7 linked regions of the Homo sapiens genome follow. The protein of the gene in region 1 interacts with the protein of each later gene in a biochemical or structural test. Each region holds a gene or a part of one and is shown in the gene's direction. Other genes may lie near its edges.

Evidence for each region.
Region 2: the proteins of RHOA (region 1) and MPRIP form a complex in vitro, tested with the Homo sapiens proteins (one study listed by BioGRID).
Region 3: the proteins of RHOA (region 1) and CLOCK form a complex in vitro, tested with the Homo sapiens proteins (one study listed by BioGRID).
Region 4: the proteins of RHOA (region 1) and FMN2 form a complex in vitro, tested with the Homo sapiens proteins (one study listed by BioGRID).
Region 5: the proteins of RHOA (region 1) and AGAP1 form a complex in vitro, tested with the Homo sapiens proteins (one study listed by BioGRID).
Region 6: the proteins of RHOA (region 1) and LRP2 form a complex in vitro, tested with the Homo sapiens proteins (one study listed by BioGRID).
Region 7: the proteins of RHOA (region 1) and BMAL1 form a complex in vitro, tested with the Homo sapiens proteins (one study listed by BioGRID).

What each region holds. Positions count from the first base shown.
Region 1 is NC_000003.12:49,401,977-49,405,476, reverse strand, and holds part of RHOA (transforming protein RhoA isoform 1 precursor), read left to right. Parts: intron 1-3,500. UniProt on the Homo sapiens protein: Small GTPase which cycles between an active GTP-bound and an inactive GDP-bound state.
Region 2 is NC_000017.11:17,157,457-17,160,956, forward strand, and holds part of MPRIP (myosin phosphatase Rho-interacting protein), read left to right. Parts: intron 1-975; coding exon 976-1,546; intron 1,547-3,500. UniProt on the Homo sapiens protein: Targets myosin phosphatase to the actin cytoskeleton. Required for the regulation of the actin cytoskeleton by RhoA and ROCK1.
Region 3 is NC_000004.12:55,429,657-55,431,909, reverse strand, and holds part of CLOCK (circadian locomoter output cycles protein kaput), read left to right. Parts: 3' UTR 1-2,253. UniProt on the Homo sapiens protein: Transcriptional activator which forms a core component of the circadian clock.
Region 4 is NC_000001.11:240,472,883-240,475,687, forward strand, and holds the end of FMN2 (formin-2), read left to right. Parts: intron 1-1,245; coding exon 1,246-1,272; 3' UTR 1,273-2,305; downstream 2,306-2,805. UniProt on the Homo sapiens protein: Actin-binding protein that is involved in actin cytoskeleton assembly and reorganization. Acts as an actin nucleation factor and promotes assembly of actin filaments together with SPIRE1 and SPIRE2.
Region 5 is NC_000002.12:236,120,043-236,123,542, forward strand, and holds part of AGAP1 (arf-GAP with GTPase, ANK repeat and PH domain-containing protein 1), read left to right. Parts: intron 1-149; coding exon 150-405; intron 406-3,500. UniProt on the Homo sapiens protein: GTPase-activating protein for ARF1 and, to a lesser extent, ARF5. Directly and specifically regulates the adapter protein 3 (AP-3)-dependent trafficking of proteins in the endosomal-lysosomal system.
Region 6 is NC_000002.12:169,205,535-169,209,034, reverse strand, and holds part of LRP2 (low-density lipoprotein receptor-related protein 2 precursor), read left to right. Parts: intron 1-1,784; coding exon 1,785-2,705; intron 2,706-2,846; coding exon 2,847-3,012; intron 3,013-3,397; coding exon 3,398-3,500. UniProt on the Homo sapiens protein: Multiligand endocytic receptor. Acts together with CUBN to mediate endocytosis of high-density lipoproteins. Mediates receptor-mediated uptake of polybasic drugs such as aprotinin, aminoglycosides and polymyxin B.
Region 7 is NC_000011.10:13,371,790-13,375,289, forward strand, and holds part of BMAL1 (basic helix-loop-helix ARNT-like protein 1), read left to right. Parts: intron 1-373; coding exon 374-620; intron 621-2,305; coding exon 2,306-2,412; intron 2,413-3,500. UniProt on the Homo sapiens protein: Transcriptional activator which forms a core component of the circadian clock.

The sequences.
Region 1 (3,500 bases):
AGACATGTAGCCCTTCAACTAACTTATTTTATTTATTTATTTTTTGAGATGGAGTTTTGCTCTTGTTGCCCAGGCTGGAGTGCAATGGCGTGATCCCAGCTCACTGCAACCTCCACCTCCTGGATTCAAGTGATTCTCCTGCCTCAGCCTCCCCATTAGTTGGGGTTTACAGGCATGTCACCATGCCCAGCTAATTTTTTTTTTTTTTTTTTTTTTTTTGAGACACAGTCTCGCTCTGTCACCCAGGCTGGAGTGCAGTGGCGCGATCTCGGCTCACTGCAACCTCCGCCCTCCGAGTTCAAGCAGTTCTCCTTCCTCAGCCTCCTGAGTAGCTGAGACTACAGGTGCCCGCCACCACGCCCGGCTAGGTGTTTTTTTTTTTTGTATTTTTAGTAGAGACAGGGTTTTACCGTGTTAGCCAGGATGGTCCCGATCTCCTGACCTCAGGTGATCTGCCTGCCTCCGCCTCCCAAAGTGTTGGGATTATAGGTGTGAGCCACCGCGCCTGGCCTACTTTTTTTATTATTTTTTTTTTTGGAGACAAGAGTCTCGCTCTGTCGCCCAGGCTGGAGTGCAGTGGCGTGATCTCGGCTCACTGCAAACTCTGCCTCCCGGGTTCATGCGGTTCTCCTGCCTTAGCCTCCCAGGTAAACTGGGACTACAGGTGCATGCTGCCACGCCTGGCTAATTTTTTTTTTTTTTTGTATTTTAGTAGAGACGGGGTTTAACCATGTTGCCCAGGCTGGTCTCCATCTCCTGAGCTCAGGCAATCTGCCTGCCTTGGCCTCCCAAAGTGCTAGGATTACAGCCGTGAGCCACCGTGCCTGGCCTTCTGGCCTTTTTTTTTTTTTTTTTTTTTTTTTTTGAGACGGAGTCTTGCTCTGTTGTCTAAGCTGGAGTGTAGTGGCACAATCTCGGCTCACTGCAATCTCTGCCTACCAGGGTGCAAGCGATTCTCCTGCCTCAGCCTCCCAAGTAGCTGGGACTACAGGTGCGTGCCACCATGCCCGGCTAATTTTGTGTGTGTGTGTGTGTGTGTGTGTTTTACTAGAGACGGGGTTTTACTTTGTTGGCCAGGCTGGTCTTGAACTCCTGACCTTGTGATCCACCTGCCTTGGCTTCCCAAAGTACTGGGATTACGGGTGTGAGCCACTGCGCCTGGCTTTTTTTTGGAGAGATAAGGTCTTGTTTTGTCATCTAGGCTGGAGTGCAGTGGCACAGTCATAGCTCATGGTGGCCTCCAACTTTTGGTGTCAAGGTATCCTTACGCCTCGTCCTCCCTAGTAGCTGGGACTACAGGTGTATGTGCCACTGCGCCCAGCTAATATTTTTACATTTTGTAGAGATGGAGTCTTGCTGTCTTGCCCAGGTTGGGTCTCAGACTCCTGGGCTCAAACAGTCCTCCCACCTCAGACTCCCAAAGTGCTGCAAGTACGGGCATGAGCCACTGAGTCCAGCTATCTTCAACTTTCACTATTCAGGTTACAGTTTGTAGTACCTTTTTTCGGGGGTGGTGGGAGGGTAGTGGGAGTAGCACCCTAAGATTTCTTGGAATAAAACAGGGCTTACTACTTGGTTCCTGGTACTTAAGAACAGTGGTTCCTAGACTCCACTGTTCCCAAACTTGGAATCCAGTTCCCCAAATTGGAATCACCTGAGGTTTAATTACCTTCATGGAGGTTTAATTTGCATACAATAAAATGCACATACTTTAAATGATAGTTTGATAATTTTTTTGTTCTTATTTTTTTTAGACATAGGGCCTTGTTCTGTCACCCAGCTGAAGTGCAGTGTCGGAATCATGGCTTACTACATCCTCGACCTCCTAGGCCCAAGAATTCTCTGCTTTAGCCTCCCGAGTAGCTGGGACTGCAGGTGTGCACCACCACGCCTGGCTACATTTTTATTTTGTAATTTTTTTTTTTGTAGAGAGAGGGGTCTCACTATGTGCTCAGACTGGTCTTGAACTCCTGGCCTTAAGTGATTCTCTCGTCTCAACCTCACAAAGCCCTGGGATTATAGGCATGAGCCACCACAAACCGCCAGTTTGATAAATTTTGATGAATGTGTATACCCAAGTAATTGCCACTCAGTCGAGTTAAAGAGCATTTCCTCAAGGCTTTAAATTTTTATTTTTATTTTTGAGACGGAGTCTTATTCTGTCATCTAGGAGTGCAGTGCCGCAATCTTGGCTCACTGCAGCCTCTGCCTCCCGGGTTCAAGTGATTCCCCTGCCTCAGCCTCCTGAGTAGCTGGGACTACAGGTGCGTGCCACCACACCCAGCTAACTTTTTGTATTTTTAGTAGAGATGGGGTTTCACTCTGTTAGCCAGGATGGTCTCGATCTGATCTTGTGATCCGCCTGCCTCTGCTTCCCAAAGTGTTGGGATTACAGGCGTGAGCCACCGCGCTCGGCGGGTTTCTTTTTTTTTTTTTTTATGAGATGGAATCTCGCTCTGTTGCCCAGGCTGCAGTGCAGTGGCACGATCTCAACTCACTGCAACCTCCGCCTCTCGGGTTCAAGCGATTCTTCTGCTTCAGCCTCCCGAGTAGCTGGAACTACAGGCACCCGCCACCACGCCCGGCTAATTTTTTGTGTTTTTAGTGGATACGGGGTTTCGCCATGTTGGCCAGGCTGGTCTCAAAGGCCTGACCTTGTGATCCTCCTGCCTCGGTCTCCCAAAGTGCTGGAATTACAGGTGTGAGCCACTGCTCCTGGCCTAAAGTTTTTTAGACTAGTTTTTTTGTTCATTCGTTTTATTTGCTTGGCTTCCTAGAATATGACAAGTTTTGGTTTGTTTTTGAGACAGAGTCTTGATCTGTTTCCCAGGCTGGAGTGCAGTGGTGCTATCGTGGCTCACTGCAGCCTCTAACTCTTGTGCCCAAGTAATACTCCTGCCTCAGCCTCATGAGCATCTGGGACTACAGGCAAGCACCACCATACCTAGTTAATTAATTTAATTTTTATAGAGATGACGTTTTGCCATGTTGTCCAGGCTGGTCTCTAACTCCTGAGCTCTGGCCTCGCAAAGTGGTGGGATTATAGGTGTGAACCACTGCACCCGGCCTAGTTTTTTATTTTAAGAAATATATATACTTGGTAAAAGTAAACTCCTGCAATAAGGTTTACAATAAGCATATATAAATTCTTAGCCAGCTCACTGGGAGGTACCTAATGGTTCATTTTTCTTTGTCAGTTTTACTAGATACGCATTGTCTTAGAGGCAATGTAAGTTTGGAATTAGGCCAAACAAAGTCAAATCCTGATTCTGTGCATCCATTGAAGGTTAACCTTATAATATTTACATTTTGAGATAAATGATTTCATGCTCTTATTTAGGAAACTTGACGGTATGTTACCTCAGGGATTGTTCCTTGCCTGTCTTTCCCCAAAGAACTTGAGTTTGAAGTGATTTTCACTTGGCAGTAAATTGAAGGTTTTCTTCATTGCTTACCACCATGTGCCTTATTCCTGCTGCTCTTGATCTCCAAGTGCCCTT
Region 2 (3,500 bases), on another chromosome or scaffold:
GCCTCCTGTTTCCCTCACCCTTAGGAGGTCCCAGTCTTTCATACTGATCCATCTGTCATGCCAGCAGCTGGATTGGGCTTTTAAAACATAGATTCAGGCTGGGCACAGTAGCTCACGCCTGTAATCCCAGCACTTTGGGAGGCAGGCGGATCACCTGAGGTCAGGAGTTTGAGACCAGCCTGGCCAACATGGAGAAACCCCGTTTCTACTAAAAATACAAAATTAGCCAGGCATGGTAGCGCATGCCGGTAATCCCAGCTACTTGGGAGGCTGAGGCAGGAGAATCGCTTGAACCCAGCAGGCAGAGGTTGTGGTGAGCCGAGATCGCGCCATTGCACTCCAGCCTGGGTAACAAGAGTGAAACTCCATCTCAAAAAAAAAAAAAACAAAACATAGATCTGATCACGTTACCTGCTTATTAAAAGGTAAGCCCTTCTAGAAAGTGCTAGTTTTCCCTCATTCTGTCACCACTGTCCAGTCCAGGGGTGCACAGGGCCCAGGCCTCACCTGGCAGGTACGGTGGCTGTGCCCAGGTGCAGCCTAATGTAGTTCTTGGCCCTGAGCAAGGCAGGGCTGGCCCGTCCTGCCTCTGAGGCTGTGGGAGTCCTGGGACTCCCCTGGCTCCATACCCTGGCAACGGGACCACCACAGTGAGCCCCTCACAGCCTCTTCAGTCAAGGGACCCCCCCAGTGTCATTATGTGGGAAACCTCAGCTTTCTGAGGCTCTTTTCCCTTCCTTTCCCCTTCCCCTCCCCGTCCCCCTCCCCCTCCCCCACTCAGAACCAGTTTGGGAAGGGATGTGGGGTAAAGGCAGAGTATTCCTGTCCTCCCTGCACTTAGGAAGCTGGGATTAGGATAGAAAAAGGATGTGGTGCTCACAGGGGCTGGGTTGTGGCTCAGCATTGCCAGCTTCTGCCTGGCAGGCCACACCAGAGCCGCCCCTGACAGGCTATGTCCATCCTCCTGCCCCACAGCTCGTTGCCAGAGGAAAAAAACAAGAGCAGCTGCTCTTTTGAGACCTGCCCGAGGCCTACTGAGAAGCAAGAGGCAGAGCTGGGGGAGCCGGACCCTGAGCAGAAGAGGAGCCGCGCACGGGAGCGGAGGCGAGAGGGCCGCTCCAAGACCTTTGACTGGGCTGAGTTCCGTCCCATCCAGCAGGCCCTGGCTCAGGAGCGGGTGGGCGGCGTGGGGCCTGCTGACACCCACGAGCCCCTGCGCCCTGAGGCGGAGCCTGGGGAGCTGGAGCGGGAGCGTGCACGGAGGCGGGAGGAGCGCCGCAAGCGCTTCGGGATGCTCGACGCCACAGACGGGCCAGGCACTGAGGATGCAGCCCTGCGCATGGAGGTGGACCGGAGCCCAGGGCTGCCTATGAGCGACCTCAAAACGCATAACGTCCACGTGGAGATTGAGCAGCGGTGGCATCAGGTGGAGACCACACCTCTCCGGGAAGAGAAGCAGGTGCCCATCGCCCCCGTCCACCTGTCTTCTGAAGATGGGGGTGACCGGCTCTCCACACACGAGCTGACCTCTCTGCTCGAGAAGGAGGTAATAGCCTGGGACCAGATCCCCACCCTGCTCCCAGCAGCCTTTCCAGAGCATCAGCTGTGCCCAGCTGTGGCCTGAGGGGTTCATCTAGACAGTCCTACCCGCGAGGGACTTGCAGACCCCTAGGGGAGACAGACGCATAGATGAGTCCTCATAGTTGAGGCAGACCTGAGAGCTGTGGGAGCGTGCCAGTGCATGCAGGGCAGGGAAAGGGGCCTTCCAGGCACAGAGGAATTCTTCCGATGGTGGGGGCCCCTGCCATTGAGAGGCAAGCGGCGTTGCAGGGCCTAGATGGTTTCCTCGTTCTGACTCCCGATGGCAGGAGGGGCGCGAGCAGGGCAAGGCTTTTGCATTACGCAGCCCTGGCTTGGACAGGTCAAAGCTGTAGGCAGAGACCAGCCCCAGGTGCTCTTACAGTGGCTTGGGGACGGCCGATCAGATCTGAAGCCAGGGGCATCCAGCAGGAGATGACAGCTGGGTCCTAGGTCATGAGGATATGAAGCAGAAGACAGTGGTGAGGCAGGGTAGGCTGTGGATGAAGGCTGCCCTGTGACTGTCACTCCTCCACGAGGCCTTCAGTGCACCTAGGTACATAGATGAACAAGCTGGCCCCCGAACTATAAAATAAGATGTTCTTTCATGGAAATGTATGCAGAAATCCAGTCTGCAGAACTTCAGTGGTAGATTGACATGTCTGGGCAGGGAGTCTCGTAGCTGGGGAGGTGTAGCGTTACAGTTTTTGTAGAACTCCCTGTTTCACTCTCCATTTAGGGACAGTTTTCAACACTGTGTTTCAAATGTGTTCTCTTACGTAAGTAGCTTGTTAAAGATTTGCCACTTGGGTATGCCTCAAGCTTCTCATCTTTTTTGTATTTTATTAACTGTATGAGGCTGAGTTACCACCAGCACTAATACTTGTACTTTTTCATTTTCCTCATCCATTAACAAGTAACAAAGGCAAGATGAAATAAAATAACAGTTGAAACTCACATTACTTCAGGCTACCAAAATGGGCCAGCCAGCAGGCGACACACTGGCTCAACAATCTGGGGGGTCAGTCTTCACTGTTTAAAAGTCAGGGGTCGGCTGGGCATGGTGGCTCACGCCTGTAATCCCGGTACTTTGGGAGGCCGAGGCGGGCGGATCACAAGGTCAAGAGATCAAGACCATCCGGCCAACATGGTGAAACCCCGTCTCTACTAAAAATACAAAAATTAGCTGGGCATGGTGGTGCATTCCTGTAGTCCCAGCTACTTGGAAGGCTGAGGCAGGAGAATCACTTGAACCCAGGAGGCAGAGGTTGCAGTGACCTGAGATCGCACCATCGTACTCCAGCCTGGCGACAGAGCGAGAGTCCATCTCAAAAAAAATAAATAAAAGTCAGGGGTCTCCCCGCCTCTCACAGCACAGTCTGTCAGCACCCTGGGCGGCACTGGCCTGACTGTCCACCACACACACAGCTCCATTCAGCACGAGCTCTGGGAGCAGGTTGGGTAGCCCTGCACATGGCCAGGCATCAGGAGGCACCTGGGAGGTGTGTAGGGAAGAGGTGGATGGATGAATGAGTAGCTGAAGCTGTTGAAAGCAAGAAGAGTGTAAAATAGCTTACTCATGGGTATCCACACCTTGTTTGAGGGAACTGCGGGAACTCTTTTTGCAAACAGAACTTTGTGGAATCCATCATGTAAAGCTGGTCAAATGGAGTGGTTTCAGTTGAGACCATAGTGGGCCCTGGAGTGAGGCCTGCTTGGGGCCACCACTCACAGTGGTCCCTGTAGAGCCTAGCCTGGCCTGTGTGACCAGCTGAGGACACCCAAAGGACCCCATGGGGTGCTTCCTCCAGATGCAGATGCAAAACCCTTGTTCCCCAGTGGACACATTCCCCTTCTCAGAAATGAACACCCCGTATGGGCCTTGGCACCTATATAGGGCGTGCATGTTGGAACCTTGAGCA
Region 3 (2,253 bases), on another chromosome or scaffold:
CACTGTTGAAGGGAGAAGAACCCTTGTTCAGGAAGCCTTAGAAAGGGATCCTTAAAATAGTACTCTACGCAGACAAGTGAAAATTCTTTTAAACTGGATATTACTCAACATGTTTTCAGATGTTTCCACTACATTGAGGCAAACTTTTTAAAAGTGGAATGCAAATAGCATTTTACTTTAGTATTTCTGCTTTTTTCTTTCTGTTTCTTTGGTAATTGAAAGTTTGTTGATGAATATTTGTGTAAAACGCATTCAAGTCTATAACCTTTCCAATTACCTGTGGCCCTTAGTCCCACAGGAGTCCCTGTTGGAAGGGGGTAAACACTGGATATTAATGTTGCTGAGTGAGTCTTTCTAGCCAGGACAAGCTGATTGGAATTTTTGAATGGTAGAGAAGAAACAGCACAAAGGCACTTGCCATTTTAAGTGTTTGGAGAAAGAGAACCTTTTAAGTTTGGATTGGGTGAGCTTTCTTCTAAAAGGAGCTTCTGAAGTAATTGCAAAGGAATAGAATCGACTATTTTTATAGTATATTTAATATATTTGTATATAACTATAATAGGAACCCTCTACATGCCTCCCACTTTTCTAATTTACTTCCCCTTTTGCCATAGCACTAGTATAGCCTCATCCGCATGGGTAATGTGCCTATTGTCAGCCTACCAAAAGATAGTGCTGCTGCTTTATGAGACAGGTGAGAAGACCCAACTCTCATGCCTGGGGATCCTTTACGGAAGGAATAGCACACACTTTTAAAACAACATACCACAGTCTAAAAGCATCATTTTGAAATGTAACAAGCACTTTATTGCAATTACTCATTTTGATAAAGTTTATTCTTAGGCGTTAACCATTTCTAAAGGATCCCCAAATCATCACTTACTTAGGTGAAATTATATAAAATGACACATTTCTGAGAAATGTTTAGGTCCAGTGAACCGTAGTTGGTTTATGGGAGTGATTTCAAGATAGCCAAATGAACTTTGATTTTTGTTTTGAATGTGGTGGAGTCAAGAGATTGTAGATGCCTAGTTTGATTTAAACACTATTGTAAACCTATCTTGCCTATTGTGTGGACACCAAAAGAGACCAATGAGCCTGTTTATTTTTCAGAGGTCTAGGAAAATTGCATCCGTGTGAGTAGATGTACAGAACTAATCTAAAAGTGATTGCTAGTAACATTTTAGAATATAATAATTTCAAGAATTATTCTGAGTGTTTTAAATGTGCCCTGAAATGTTGGCATGTCATTTCAGCATTTCCATTTGAATTGCTCTTGTAATATTTTTGCACAAAAAGGACTGAGAAAAAGAATACTTTGGTTAAAGGAAAAAAATAGTATAATTTGGTCTTTAATTTTAATGTCTCCTGTGGAAACACTGGGGATGAATTTTGTTGGCACAGTTATTCAGGATATTTAAAACAGTGTTGAACAGTTCACAAGAAATTAAGCAAACTTGGATTTTAAAAATTAAAATACTTTCTTTCCATGTGACTGTTTTGCATAGTTTTTTCCCCCTATGTCATAACACTACATTCCTTGTTTTTCTTAAATAAAATACTCTGCAGGTTTTGTTGTGAGTGTTTATAACAGTATTTTGTAAGCTGCCTGGGTTTCCTCAGGGAAACATTATTTAGTGGAATAGGATATAGTTTATGGAGAGACAACTAAGTGAAATTCCATCACCACCACCAGCAAACACTGAGGTGCTGCATTAAGTGACAATCAAACTAGTAAGTATTTATGAAAGAATTTAGAAAGGGGTTCAAAGAAGCAATTGCTTTTAAAGCAGTTCTCTGGGGTTCTTGAATAAAAATGGCTAAATGTATTTATTTATATTTTAAAATACCTGTGTGTTCTGTTTTCTCATCAAAGTGATTTCGGTGTCATGTATTTAATGTGTGGTTTGTTTTGTTTTGCACCATATTCTTCTTAGGGAACTGGCTCTGATTTGGGGTGCAGTCACCAACTCTCATGATAATCTTTACGGACAGTCTGAATCTACTTTACTTCAGGACGGCAGTGGAGGGGCCAACTCCAGATGCCCCTGCACTTCCCTCCTCAAGTCATCTAAGAAAGAATTTTAGAAATAACTCCTTTCAAATCTGATTCATACAGTTCCAACCTTTTTCTAGTTTCACTTGCTGCCTTCTTTGTTTTATGGGCACTTTTTGTGTGATTACTTCCCCAACACAGTCAAAGGCCAGTATGACAGAACCAATGGCACATGATGCCTCTATTTTGCCCATTTG
Region 4 (2,805 bases), on another chromosome or scaffold:
TGCAGTGAGCCAAGATTGCAACACTGCACTCCAGCCTGGCAACAGAGTGAGACTTTGTCTCAAAAAAAAAAAAAAAAAAATTAAGATAAATCTACTGAATCTACTGAGGGTGTGCATTTATGTGGATATGTGCATGTTGGCAGGGGCAGGGTGGGGAGACCATCTTTCACTTTCTTTGTTACACACAGATCACGGCAGAGGCTGTATTTGAGCCACGAGTGATCATTCTAATTGGATTAGATCCACTGGGATGTAAAGTTGGTGGGAAGCGCCAAGAGCAGTGTGACGCTTTGCCCAGGGTGCCCAGACCCCGTTTATATCCACAGATGGCTCGGCAGAGTTGGCTGCCGGAGAGTGGTCAGTCCAGAGACGGAGTTTAACAAGCTCATTTAAGTTTCCTGCTTGCCCACTCCCCGCTTTAAAACAAAATGCCAGGTTATCCACCCTGGGAGGGAAGGGCTTGGTTAAAATGACAAGGCTTTTCCTTGTGATACTGAGGATGTTTTGTTGACTGTTTTGAGGGATTATCACTTGGTACCACAGTGTAAGTAAATGTTTTAAATGAAAAGTTGAGTTAGGCCTTAGGATAGGACCATTCTAAATTGAATTAGTCTAATGTAGTCTAAAGGGAAAAGACATTAAAATAACCCAAATTGGGATATGATTAAATAGCCCTGTTTTTTTTTAAAAAGTTAGGAATTATATCTTCATTTAGAAGCAGTGGTGCCTTCAGTTTCTCTGTATCAAAATGATCTTATCTAATGATAACTACTACATGATAGTTCAGCTTATCTTCTGCTCCTGATGATTCAGTCTTATAACTGTATTGAATGTGGAGGAATAGTTACTTATTAGTGAACCTCAATCTTGCTATTATGAGTACAGAAGATAATTAGAGTACATTTACCATGAAGTGAAGCAGCCACTTCAGTTTTCATATTTATGTATTTGCATGTAGGATTGAGGATGAGAATGGAGAGTTTGACACCCTCTCATATTGGTTAGAAGTTAAATTTTTAAAACTTTTTTTTTTCTCAAAAGTATTTGGCGATTTGTCTTGATAAAAGTGCTCAAAGATAACACAGATCCCACTTATACTTTTTTCCTTTATGGACTGGTAGACCTTTAACCTTGTCCCACAGAATTTGATCCAAATGAAAAGGTCTTTTTTAGGCTACTCTAAATTCTTTCCATTTTTAAAAGTTCTTTCTAACTAAAACTTTTATCTGGTGTATTTGTTTTCAGAAAGCAAAGATAAGCATGAAAACTTGAACAATGAAAAGCAGAATGAAAATGAGTCATTGCAACGACTTTCACAAAATTCAGCTGACCTGAGAGTGGGAGGGAAACTACCGTCATTCTGCTCATGTTTCTTCTTGACCTCTTGCATAATCTTTTTGTTTTCTAGACAGTTCACTAATTGTTGAATTTTACTGTATATTCATATAAAAATGCAAACGTACTAGACCAGTGGAGAATTTGACACCTTTTCTTTTTGTAAAAGTTTATGGTATTATACCGATAGACCAAAACAGCATGTGTAAGAGGCAGTATCTGCACTAATTCTCAACATGCTAAACATTAACTACAATTCACTGTTGTGAGAATATTCCTCGTCACAGCAAAAACACTTTCCTTTCTACTGACAACCAGTCCTCCACATCACAGCATTTAGACATATGGGTAAAATGTTATTTCTAGTGAATTGTTTGTATCAGTTTCATGTCTAAGTATAAATTTTCTATTTTAAAATTTAAGAACCGTTTATAATCAGTGCTTTCCCAACTCTTGGGTTGCTCTCCATAACTATGTATTTGTGAAAGAAAATGGTCATTTTTTTTACTGAAGTCATATAATGACTTGGGTCAGCTCGTAATGCATTGTGATGGTTTTGTATGAGCTGGGTGTTTTTTTCCATTACTTTTAATGATCTTCGTTGCAAGTTATAGTTGTGGATAAAGGGGAGAATTTATTGCTCTTGCAAACCAATTATGGAAAGCAACTTAAGAAAACCAATGTTCTAAATCATAATTGTTTGTATTTATGTAAAGTATGGTCTCTTACTTTTTAGTTTGTAGTTTAAGTGCAAAGAAACAGTAGTGGTTTTTTTTCTATTGTTTTGTAGTCTTCCTGTCCCCTTCAGTCCCTCCAGTGTGTATATTACCATTCTCCAATGAAATAATAGGGCATTTAACAAAGATCGCTATGTGCAATACTGTATTTAGTGTTTCTATTTCAATTTTTCTAGGATGTTAATTTATATGAAAATAAAATGAATAATAAAAGAATAAAGATACTTGCAAAAGACAGCTGTCATATTTAACATGGGGTGGGGAATAAGAGAAGGAGGGAAAATAAGTTAGGCATGCTGCATATTCACCTGCACACACACACAAAAATGTGTGTACAGTTTCAGGGACTTAAGAACTTAAAGCCCATCAATGATACCTAAGTAAGAAATCCTGGTAAAATATTTATTCCTTTGTGGCTTGAACTAGGATCTCTTTCCTGATCTCCCAAAGATCTTCTGGTCATTTTCAATCAGATATCTCACCATGCCTTAAAATTCATTATGTGTAAATTCAAACTCAGCTTGTCATCTTTTCCCTCCATACCTGCTCATTCTTGTGTATTATCTATCTCAGTGAACAAAGCCACTATTCATTCAGAAACCCAAGTTCATCTTTTGACATATTACTTATCACAAATGCATACATTTGTCTCTGTCTTTTCTATTAAAGTCTTAGTTCAGAACCCTCATTAATTCCTTTATTAACCTACTCATTGTTCTCATCTTCCGAGATT
Region 5 (3,500 bases), on another chromosome or scaffold:
TTCCCCCAGGGGGCTTTGTGCCGAGTGAAGACCTTTGCTTTCTGTTATTTCACTTCCCTCTCGGCTTCTCCCGACCACACTGGGCAGGGGCTGGCAGCCTGTGTTCTCGGGCCTGATCGTGACTGCACCTGTCTGGTGGCTCTTTGCAGGGAAGAGAAGGAACGGTGGATCCGTGCCAAGTACGAGCAGAAGCTCTTCCTGGCCCCGCTGCCCTGCACGGAGCTGTCCCTGGGCCAGCACCTGCTGCGGGCCACCGCCGACGAGGACCTGCGGACGGCCATCCTGCTGCTGGCACACGGCTCCCGGGACGAGGTGAACGAGACCTGCGGGGAGGGAGACGGCCGCACGGCGCTGCATCTGGCCTGCCGCAAGGGGAATGTGGTCCTGGCGCAGCTCCTGATCTGGGTAGGTGGTCGGCACGCCTGGCAGAGGACGGGGCCACAGGAGGCACTCTCTGCTTTGTTCTGCTTCCGTGGGCATCTTTCTGGCAGAAGGCTGTTGTTCTCGATCTGCAAGTGGAAACAGTTCCTAATGGGAAACTCTGATTGAAGAGCAGAGGGCCTTACGGAGAGACAGCCGGTCCTCCTTGTACAGTACTTGCTAGAGTTTCTGAAAATTGCAACTTTGTGATTGCCCCTTATCAAGCAGGGTTGGTGCTATCCCTCTTTTTTCATTTCCATCATCTTCTGGAGAGAAGGCGGTGTATTAACGGGATGGCTTGTAGGGTTTCCCCATTTCCAAACCTTTGGTGTTTTTATTCACTTAACACAGAAATACTGGACCCTAAACTTTGAGGTCTGATGTGGCAGGAGTTTGTCAAAGGACTTCTTTCGAACCATTCTGATTAATTTCTACTGGGGAAAAGTATTATTTACATTCCTATTGAAGCATGTGTCACAATGCTTGAAGGAGTGAAAGAGAAGGATAAAGTGGTTGTGCAGAGAGGCCCTGCCTGTGCCACCCAGGAGCTACGTCTGAGAAGCCACGCCCACTTAGGGGCTGCCTGTGGACCCCTGGGGCTTCTGCTGAGGCAGGTTCCCACCAGAGGCAGGCAGAAAGCTGCCGGCAGGGAGGCTCCCCAGATAGGGAAGGCAAGTGTGTGCCCAGAAGTGGAGACAGCACCCAGAGGTGGGACACCCAGCTGGAGGCTCTTCTGTCTCCACCCGCAAGGCAGGATGGGTCAGTCCAGCACAGCAGCACGTTCTACAGCAGCATGGGTAGAGTGCAGCAGGTTTCTGCATGTTTTTGATCTGACTTTTTTGTTTTTTGTTTTTTTGAGACAGAGTCTCGCTCTGTCACCCAGGCTGGAGTGCAGTGGTGCGATCTCAGCTCACTGCAACCTCCGCCTCCCAGGTTCAAGCAATTCTCCTGCCTCAGCCTCCCAGGAAGCTGGGATTACAGGTGCGCACCACCACGCCCAGCTAATTTTTGTATTTTTAGTAGAGACGGGGCTTCACCATGTTGGTCAGTCTGGTCTCGAGCTCCTGACCTCGTGATCCACCCGCCTCGGCCTCCCAAAGTGCTGGGAGTACAGGCATGACCCACCACGCCCAGCCTTGATCTGACTTTTTTGATGGGTGCAGTTGGTGAATGAGTGAGATATAGACACTACACCAAAATCACACAGATACTCCCTTTTGCTCATGAGTCATACATGTGATGTAATGCACATTAAATAAGAGTTGTGTGTAGTGTGCTAGGGCTGCCATAACAAAATACCACAGACAGGGGTGCTTCAACAACAGACATTTATTTTTTCACAGTTCTGGAGGCTGGAAGTACAAGATCAAAGGGCCAGCAGGAATGGTTCCTGGCGAGGCCTCTCTCACGGCTGGTAGACGGCCGCCCTCTCCCTATGTTCTCACAGGGCCTTTCCTCTGCACTCGCTCCTGGTAGCTCTCTCCTTTCCCCCCACCCCCTTCTTTTTGGGACAAAGTCTTGCTCTGTCGTCCAGGCTGGAGTGCAGTGGCACAATCATAGCCCACTGTAACCTCAAACTCCTGGGCTCAAGCAATCCCCCCACCCTAGCCTCCCAAGTAATTGGGACCACAGGCATGCCACCCCCATGAATGGCAGTTTTTAAAAAATTTTGTAGACTTACGTTCTTACCATATTGCCCATGGGTTTTGAACTCCTGCCTTTAAGCAGTCCTCTCACCTCGGCCTCCCAAGGTGTTGAGATTACAGGTATCAGCCTCCCAGCCCAGCCTTTTCCTCTTCTCATATAGATACTAACCCTATTGTGACCTCATTTAAGCTAATACACCACCATAAAGGCTCTGTCTCCAAATACAGTCACATTCTAAAGTACTGGGTGTCAGGACTTAAACATGTGAATTGTTGGTGGGAGCGGGGGACACAGTTATAAATTACAGGCCATCTTTGCTTCTCCAATTGAGCAAAAATTCCTTTGATGGCGCTGGTTCCATGCTGTTGAGTGGCCTCAGACTCCCACACATTGTGAGTTGGCAGAAGTGGAAGTGAATTCACTCTTTTTCATGAGCAAAAAGCTTAAAAACGTTGTGTACTTTAACCTCATATTTTCCCCCTTCTGATCATCACTCTAATAATCAATCACAGATCCTAAGAAAGATTCTATGTGAGGACATACATCCGGGCACTGTTTCTTCCAGTGACAATTTTTTTTTTTTTTTTTTTTGAGACAGAGTCTCACTCTGTCTCCCGGGCTGGAGTGCAGTGGCACGATCTCGGCTCACTGCAACCTCTGCCTCCCGGGTTCAAGCAATTCTCCTGCCTCAGCCTCCTGACACTAGCTGGGATTACAAGCGTACACCACCATGCCCAGATAATTTCTGTATTTTTAGTAGAGACGAGGTTTCACCATGTTGGTCAGTCTGGTCTCAAACTCCTGACCTTGTGATCCGCCCTCCTCGGCCTCCCAAAGTGCTGGGATTCCAGGCATGAGCCACCGTGTCCGGCTCCAGTGACAATTTTTACAAAGTGTGCACAGTTGAGGGGAGAGTTCTGAATTCTGTTCATGTGGTGGAATACTGTATGACTTGCATATGTCATGCTTTTTGAGGGGTGGGGAGACAGGGTCTCACTCTGTTGCCCAGGCTGGAGTGCAGTGGTGTGATGTCGGCCCACGGCAGCCTCTGCCTCCTAGGCTCAAGCGATCCTCCCACCTCAGCCTCCTGCATAGCTGGGACCACAGGCATATGCCACGTGCCCAGCTAATTTTTTTAAAATGTGTTTTTTTCTAGAGACAGGGTCTCCCAGTATTGCTCAGGCTAGTCTTGAACTCCTGGGCTGAAGTGAACCACCGCACCCAGCTTGTGTTGTGCTTCTGAGTAATTTTTAATGATGTAAGAAAATGATCACAGTATAGTAATCAATAAAAAATGAAAAAAATACAAATTATTTGTACAGTCTTATCTCAATTATGTACATATACATGTAGATTCAAAGAAAACTCATTGAAAGGAAATACACTAATTCACAAAGGTTATCTCTAAGTAGTAAGATTATGGGTGATTTTTT
Region 6 (3,500 bases), on another chromosome or scaffold:
TAATTGCTTCCTTTTATTCATATATAAAAATCCCTTAGATCATGAGATATTTTATTAGTAATTTTTTTAAATGCCTGGTCCAGTATTATATTAACTTAGTTGTATTTATTCATGCACATAAGCTTGAATAACCCCTCATTTTTATCACTCATCTGAGTAAAAATACCACTCATAATTAGTGGTATTATATGTTTTGGAATATAATCCAATTCTACATAAAATCAGTATCATTGAATCAAGCTTGGTGAGTAGGCATCACTTAGAAATATTAGCATGTAGGCAGGGCGCAGTGGCTCATGCCTGTAATCCCAGCACTTTAGGAGGCTGAGGCAGGCGGATCACCTGAGGTCAAGAGTTTGAGACCAGCCTGACCAACATGGTGAAACCCCATCTCTACTAAAAACACAAAAATTAACCAGGCATGGTGGCGTACGCCTGTAATCCCAGCTACTCAGGAGCCTGAGGCAGGAGAATCTCTTGAAGCCGGGAGGTGGAGGTTGCAGTGGGCCGAGATTAAGCCACTGCCATCAAGCCTGGGTGACAGACTGAGACTCTGTCTCGAATTAAAAAAAAATTTAAAAAAAGGAAATATAAGCATGTATTATGAAAATCTAAGTACTATAATAAGAGTTTATTGCAAAAAGTAAATATGGAAGTATGGTTAAATAAAGCTTTAATTGGGTTCCTAACTCCCGTTCCTGAATAGAAATTACTATTTCTGAGGGTATAGATAAAGCAGTAGTCAGCAAACTATGGCCCGTGCGTCAAATGCAGCCTGTTGCCTGTTTTTGTAAATAAAGTTTTATTGTAACACAGCTATGCCCATTTATTTGTGTATTGTCTATGGCTGCTTTCATGTTACAGTGGCAGTGTTGAGTACTTGTGAAACCATATGCTCTGCAAAGCCTAAAATATTTATTATGTGGCCCTTTACAGAAAAAGTTTGCCAACCCTGGATTAAAGGATTGGAAATGAGCAAATGCATACATAGCAAGTAGAGTTAGGTAATGAAAAAATGTATCAGTAACATATTTCACATTGGCCTGATTTCTCTAGAGGTGGTTTGAATCAGATATAGGAACAAAATATGTGTGTCTTGGTAGTAGCATTGATAGTTCAACAACAGACTTTCAACTACATGAAATCAATAATTTGTGGTCATTCTCTACTTATTATACTATCTTCATAAAGTTATCTTTTTATTCTAGCATGTACATAAGGCCCAAAGGGAAATGGACTTTTGGTCACTTTTAGAAGGTCCATGGGATGAAAACACCTACATTAGTTAGAAAGACTAAGGAAAAACTTCATGTTAACCTTAAGTTCAAAGACCATTTGATAACATTAATAACAACCTGAGATGCTGCTGGTGCTCCCTCTTTGCTACTTTTATCACATTGGGATGGAAGTTGTGCTATGAAAATGTATATTTAGAGTGTTTCAAGTAGGTATTAAGCATTTAGAGCTTCAGATAGAAAAGGAGGGACATTCTGGAAAATATACCTTTCAGTAGAAAGTGGGTTATGATGTTGCTATGAATTCTAATCTACTTTAGAAGCTGAAGATAGGCACTTTCTCTCTAAATTTGAAGACACAATCTCTATAATTCCTAGGAGTAAGAACTTATTTTTCTAAGCCTAGACTGGGACACTATCATCTTGGAAAAGACAACATATAGTGACCCAGACTTCAACCTTATATATTTTGTTCTGAATTTGTAAAGTTCTCCCTTTTTTTCTTCTTGGTTCTCCATTGATCAGCATGCACTTTCATTTTTCCCATAGGAAATCTTTATTTCACCAATGCCTTTGTTTCTGAAACACTGATAGAAGTTCTGCGGATCAATACTACTTACCGCCGTGTTCTTCTTAAAGTCACAGTGGACATGCCTAGGCATATTGTTGTAGATCCCAAGAACAGATACCTCTTCTGGGCTGACTATGGGCAGAGACCAAAGATTGAGCGTTCTTTCCTTGACTGTACCAATCGAACAGTGCTTGTGTCAGAGGGCATTGTCACACCACGGGGCTTGGCAGTGGACCGAAGTGATGGCTACGTTTATTGGGTTGATGATTCTTTAGATATAATTGCAAGGATTCGTATCAATGGAGAGAACTCTGAAGTGATTCGTTATGGCAGTCGTTACCCAACTCCTTATGGCATCACTGTTTTTGAAAATTCTATCATATGGGTAGATAGGAATTTGAAAAAGATCTTCCAAGCCAGCAAGGAACCAGAGAACACAGAGCCACCCACAGTGATAAGAGACAATATCAACTGGCTAAGAGATGTGACCATCTTTGACAAGCAAGTCCAGCCCCGGTCACCAGCAGAGGTCAACAACAACCCTTGCTTGGAAAACAATGGTGGGTGCTCTCATCTCTGCTTTGCTCTGCCTGGATTGCACACCCCAAAATGTGACTGTGCCTTTGGGACCCTGCAAAGTGATGGCAAGAATTGTGCCATTTCAACAGAAAATTTCCTCATCTTTGCCTTGTCTAATTCCTTGAGAAGCTTACACTTGGACCCTGAAAACCATAGCCCACCTTTCCAAACAATAAATGTGGAAAGAACTGTCATGTCTCTAGACTATGACAGTGTAAGTGATAGAATCTACTTCACACAAAATTTAGCCTCTGGAGTTGGACAGATTTCCTATGCCACCCTGTCTTCAGGGATCCATACTCCAACTGTCATTGCTTCAGGTAAGTGCACTCCAGGTGCTGCTTGTCCTGCAAGTAGACACAATGGGGTCAACACACATGGATGACTGAGTGTTTCTAATGCATATGAGACTCTAATGTCTTTGTGTGTGCTTGTGTGTGTGTCTGCCTGTATGTGTCCAGGTATAGGGACTGCTGATGGCATTGCCTTTGACTGGATTACTAGAAGAATTTATTACAGTGACTACCTCAACCAGATGATTAATTCCATGGCTGAAGATGGGTCTAACCGCACTGTGATAGCCCGCGTTCCAAAACCAAGAGCAATTGTGTTAGATCCCTGCCAAGGGTATGCCATCATCTTCCTTGTTATATTTCTGTCTGCTTATTTCTGGAAAAAATGGGGCCTGAAATTATGTTCATAGATAGCCAATGTGTTATGGGCTTATAAAACTATGGCTACAGATTCAAAAATGAAAGCATATTGAGTGATTTTACGTGGGAAGGAGGGTGCAGCGCATAGCTCCCTTTGATGGCAGAAAGGTTGGCAACATACTAGGAAGTCAACACCCTGACTTACTAGATCTCCTTTGGACAAGTTGTGTAAGTAGAAATGAAGTTTCTTTTGCCATGTTACTGGCAATTTGCAATTAAAGAATATTGTCCTTTTTTTTTTTTTTAAAGGACTATGAGGTTCCCTGTGAATTAATTATTGACTCCTTTTGTATGACTAGGTACCTGTACTGGGCTGACTGGGATACACATGCCAAAATCGAGAGAGCCACATTGGGAGGAAACTTCCGCGTACCCATTGTGAACAGCAGTCTGGTCATGCCC
Region 7 (3,500 bases), on another chromosome or scaffold:
CCTCTGTGCCTGTGTACGTCATCAGCCTTTATACATTCTAGTCCCTCAGCCACTGCTCATCCTTCTTGATCCACCTCCTCTACTGGTTTTTTGGGGGAGCCTTCCTCTCCCTAGGAAGAGTTAGATATTCCTTCCTTGGTGTATGTAATGAATGTCCATGGTATAACTGGCCCTACTTAAGCATTCTGACACTGGATGACAGTTTGTTTCTCTTTCCGTCTGCCCCTTTCATTAGATGCTTACTTCTGGAGAGTGAAGCCTTGATTTTTTTTTATTTTTTGACTCCCTACCTACATCCCATCCCACCATCGGCCGTGTACACCTCCATGGCCCAAACCTAGTGCTGACACTAACCACGAACTTTGCTTTCTAGCAGATCGAAAAAGCTTCTGCACAATCCACAGCACAGGCTATTTGAAAAGCTGGCCACCCACAAAGATGGGGCTGGATGAAGACAACGAACCAGACAATGAGGGGTGTAACCTCAGCTGCCTCGTCGCAATTGGACGACTGCATTCTCATGTAGTTCCACAACCAGTGAACGGGGAAATCAGGGTGAAATCTATGGAATATGTTTCTCGGCACGCGATAGATGGAAAGTTTGTTTTTGTAGACCAGAGGTAAGAGTCTACATACTACCCTTGAGCAATGATGGTAGAGGATTTTCAACCCTGATCTAAAAAGCAGAGAAGACTGGGCCATCAGCTGGCTTTTCTAAGAATGAAGAAAGAAAGAAAAAGCTGGGTGCAGTGGCTCACACCTCAAATCCCAGCACTTTTTGAGGCCAAGGTGGGTGGATCACTTGAGCCCAGGAGTTTGAGACTAGCCTGGGCAACGTGGCAAAACCCTGTCTCAACTAAAAATACAAAAATTAGCCAGGCATGGTGACACATACCTGTAGTCCCATCTACTCTGGAGGCTGAAGCAGGAGGATCAGCTGAGCCTCGGGAGGTCAAGGCTGCAGTGAGCTGTGATTGCACCACTGCACTTCCGCCTGGGCAACAGAGTGAGACCCTGTTTCAAAAAAAAAGAGACAAATGATGAGAGTCTCTGTTAAAAAATGAGATTCAATAGGATATCATCATAAATACAGAGATTTTTCTGTCATTCTTTGGCATATAGAGACAATTAAGTGGGGTGCCTTGATGTCCATGGCTAAAAGAAAAACAGTAGGGATAGCATGCTGTCTGAATCTATGGAATGTTCCAGAACCATTATTGTGATTGAAATTCTTTTGAATCTAGGACTTGGAAGCAATTATTTAGTCCTGAGCTGTCCAATAAAATACTCGTTGGCCATGGTAGCCTCCCATGTGGCTAACGGCACAGACATAGAACATTTCCATCATCACAGAAAGTCTTGTTGGACAGCGTTGATCTAATCCAACCTCCTTATTTTATGGATGAAGAACAGAGGCCAGCCTGGGGACTGGTCTCCTGTAGGATTCACAATTAATTGGTAATAGACCTGGACCAAGGACCCAGGTGTCCCAAATTTACTGCTGCCTACTGCTTTCCCTCAGAATATGCACAGGCTAATAATTTTTCTGGCTACTAGAGACAGCCACAACATGCTGGAAAAAGAGACAGCCTCAGCTGTCTTGTGGCCTCAGCTGCTGCAGCTTCTGGCATTTGGTTGTCCTGATAAAAAGGAGGCAGCAAAAACTAGAAGCCTTGCACTGAGGTTTAGATTTATACCACATTTTAATCTAATTAATGTGGTTCCTTTTTTAAAGACAGATCTCAGTCTGTCACCCAGGCTAGATCTAGTGCAGTGGCGAGATCTTGGCTTACTGTAGCCTTGACCTCCCGGGCTCAAGCAGTCCTCCCACCTCAGCCTCCCAGGTAGCTGTGACCATAGGCATGTGCCACCATACCCAGCTCATTGTTCTGTGTTTTTGGTAAAGACAGGGTTTCACCATGTTGCCCAAGCTAATCTTGAATTCCTGAGCTCAGACAATCTGCCCAACTCGGCCTCCCAAAGTGCTGGGATGACAGGCATGAACCACCATGCCCGACTGGTTGCAATTTTTAAAGCCCCCTCAGATTTGATTTCTTGTGATAATAGTCCCTTTACAAAGGCTTTGCTCTGTTTCCCTCTATTTTTATAGCCTTGATTAAATTCAGATGCCTGAAAAAAAGAGAGAAAGATCCACACAGTGAGCCCTCTGAAAATCCATCCAGCTCTTTTGCCTGCAGCTTTGACCTTGCTCTCATAGGCTGTAGCAGGGTTTATCCATTGCAAAGTTGCAATTAATCATCTGAATGGCTTTTTCTTCTTTAAATATTCCTTTATTCCCTTTTAGGGCAACAGCTATTTTGGCATATTTACCACAAGAACTTCTAGGCACATCGTGTTATGAATATTTTCACCAAGATGACATAGGACATCTTGCAGAATGTCATAGGCAAGGTAAGCTAGGATGTATGAAAGATCTTAAGTTGAAAGTGTCCCCTTGCTTCTAGACTAGTCAACATGACCTTCCAGGGAAATCTGTCCACTGAGGATGTAGAGTCAGCCAGCCTAGGACTCTTCAGGTCAGAACATCTGTGTGAAGAGGAAGCTGATACCTGCAGGCACTGTTTATCCCCCTTGTAGTTGCCCTGTGCTGACTGCATGGCAGTTTCTGAAAGACATCTCTTGTTCAGAGGGTTTTCCCAGACCCTGTAAAGATTTAGTATGGCCCAGACTGATCTGATTCTCTTTTCCATTCAAGCCTGCACTACCTCCTGTGTTTTCTGTCTTGACTAATGCTGTGGCTTCATGTGCAGGCTCCTGAGAGAGACCAACATTGACCCCTTCTTTCACTGTGTCTCCACCAGATCCTGTTCATTCACCTCAGACATGCATTTCCAAAAGTCTACTTTTTACCACCTCTGCCATCACCCTGGTTCAGGCCCTCGTGCCTACTTAGAGACCTGTGATAGACTTCTCAGGGTTTCTCTGATCCCTCTCACCCCCAGTTCATCTTCCATAGTTATCCTATTTATCCCCAGATAGATTGAGCCTGGTAACATCAGCCTGCTTAAAAACCTCCTGCTTTAGACTCAAGCCCAAATGCTTTTGACAGGCAATCAAATGTGAGACCTTCCACCTTCTGGCCCCAGCCCACCTCCTCAGTTTCAGTCCCCATCCCTGCCTGCAGAGGCCTGTGCTCCAGGCACACTGACCTCACTGGCCTCTCCCCAACCAGACCCTGCTGCTCCTCAGGCACTGCTGGGTTCTTCCCTCCCTCCTTCTCTTGGCAAACTCGTGTTCATCCCTCAAGGCTCTGATCTCTTCTCCCTGTATAGCCTTCCCTCACTACTCTTCTTGAGGGCAGGAGTCATAGCCTGTCTCCTCTTGTATCTCCAGTGCCTGGCACATGAGAAGGGCTCATTACATGTTACATGAAAGAATGAGGTTGAATAGGTGAGTAGCCTCTGTTGATTTGGATGTTCTTAGAAATGAGATAAGTTCTATATTGCCCTTGGGCTTTGTGATTGAGATAAAGCATGACA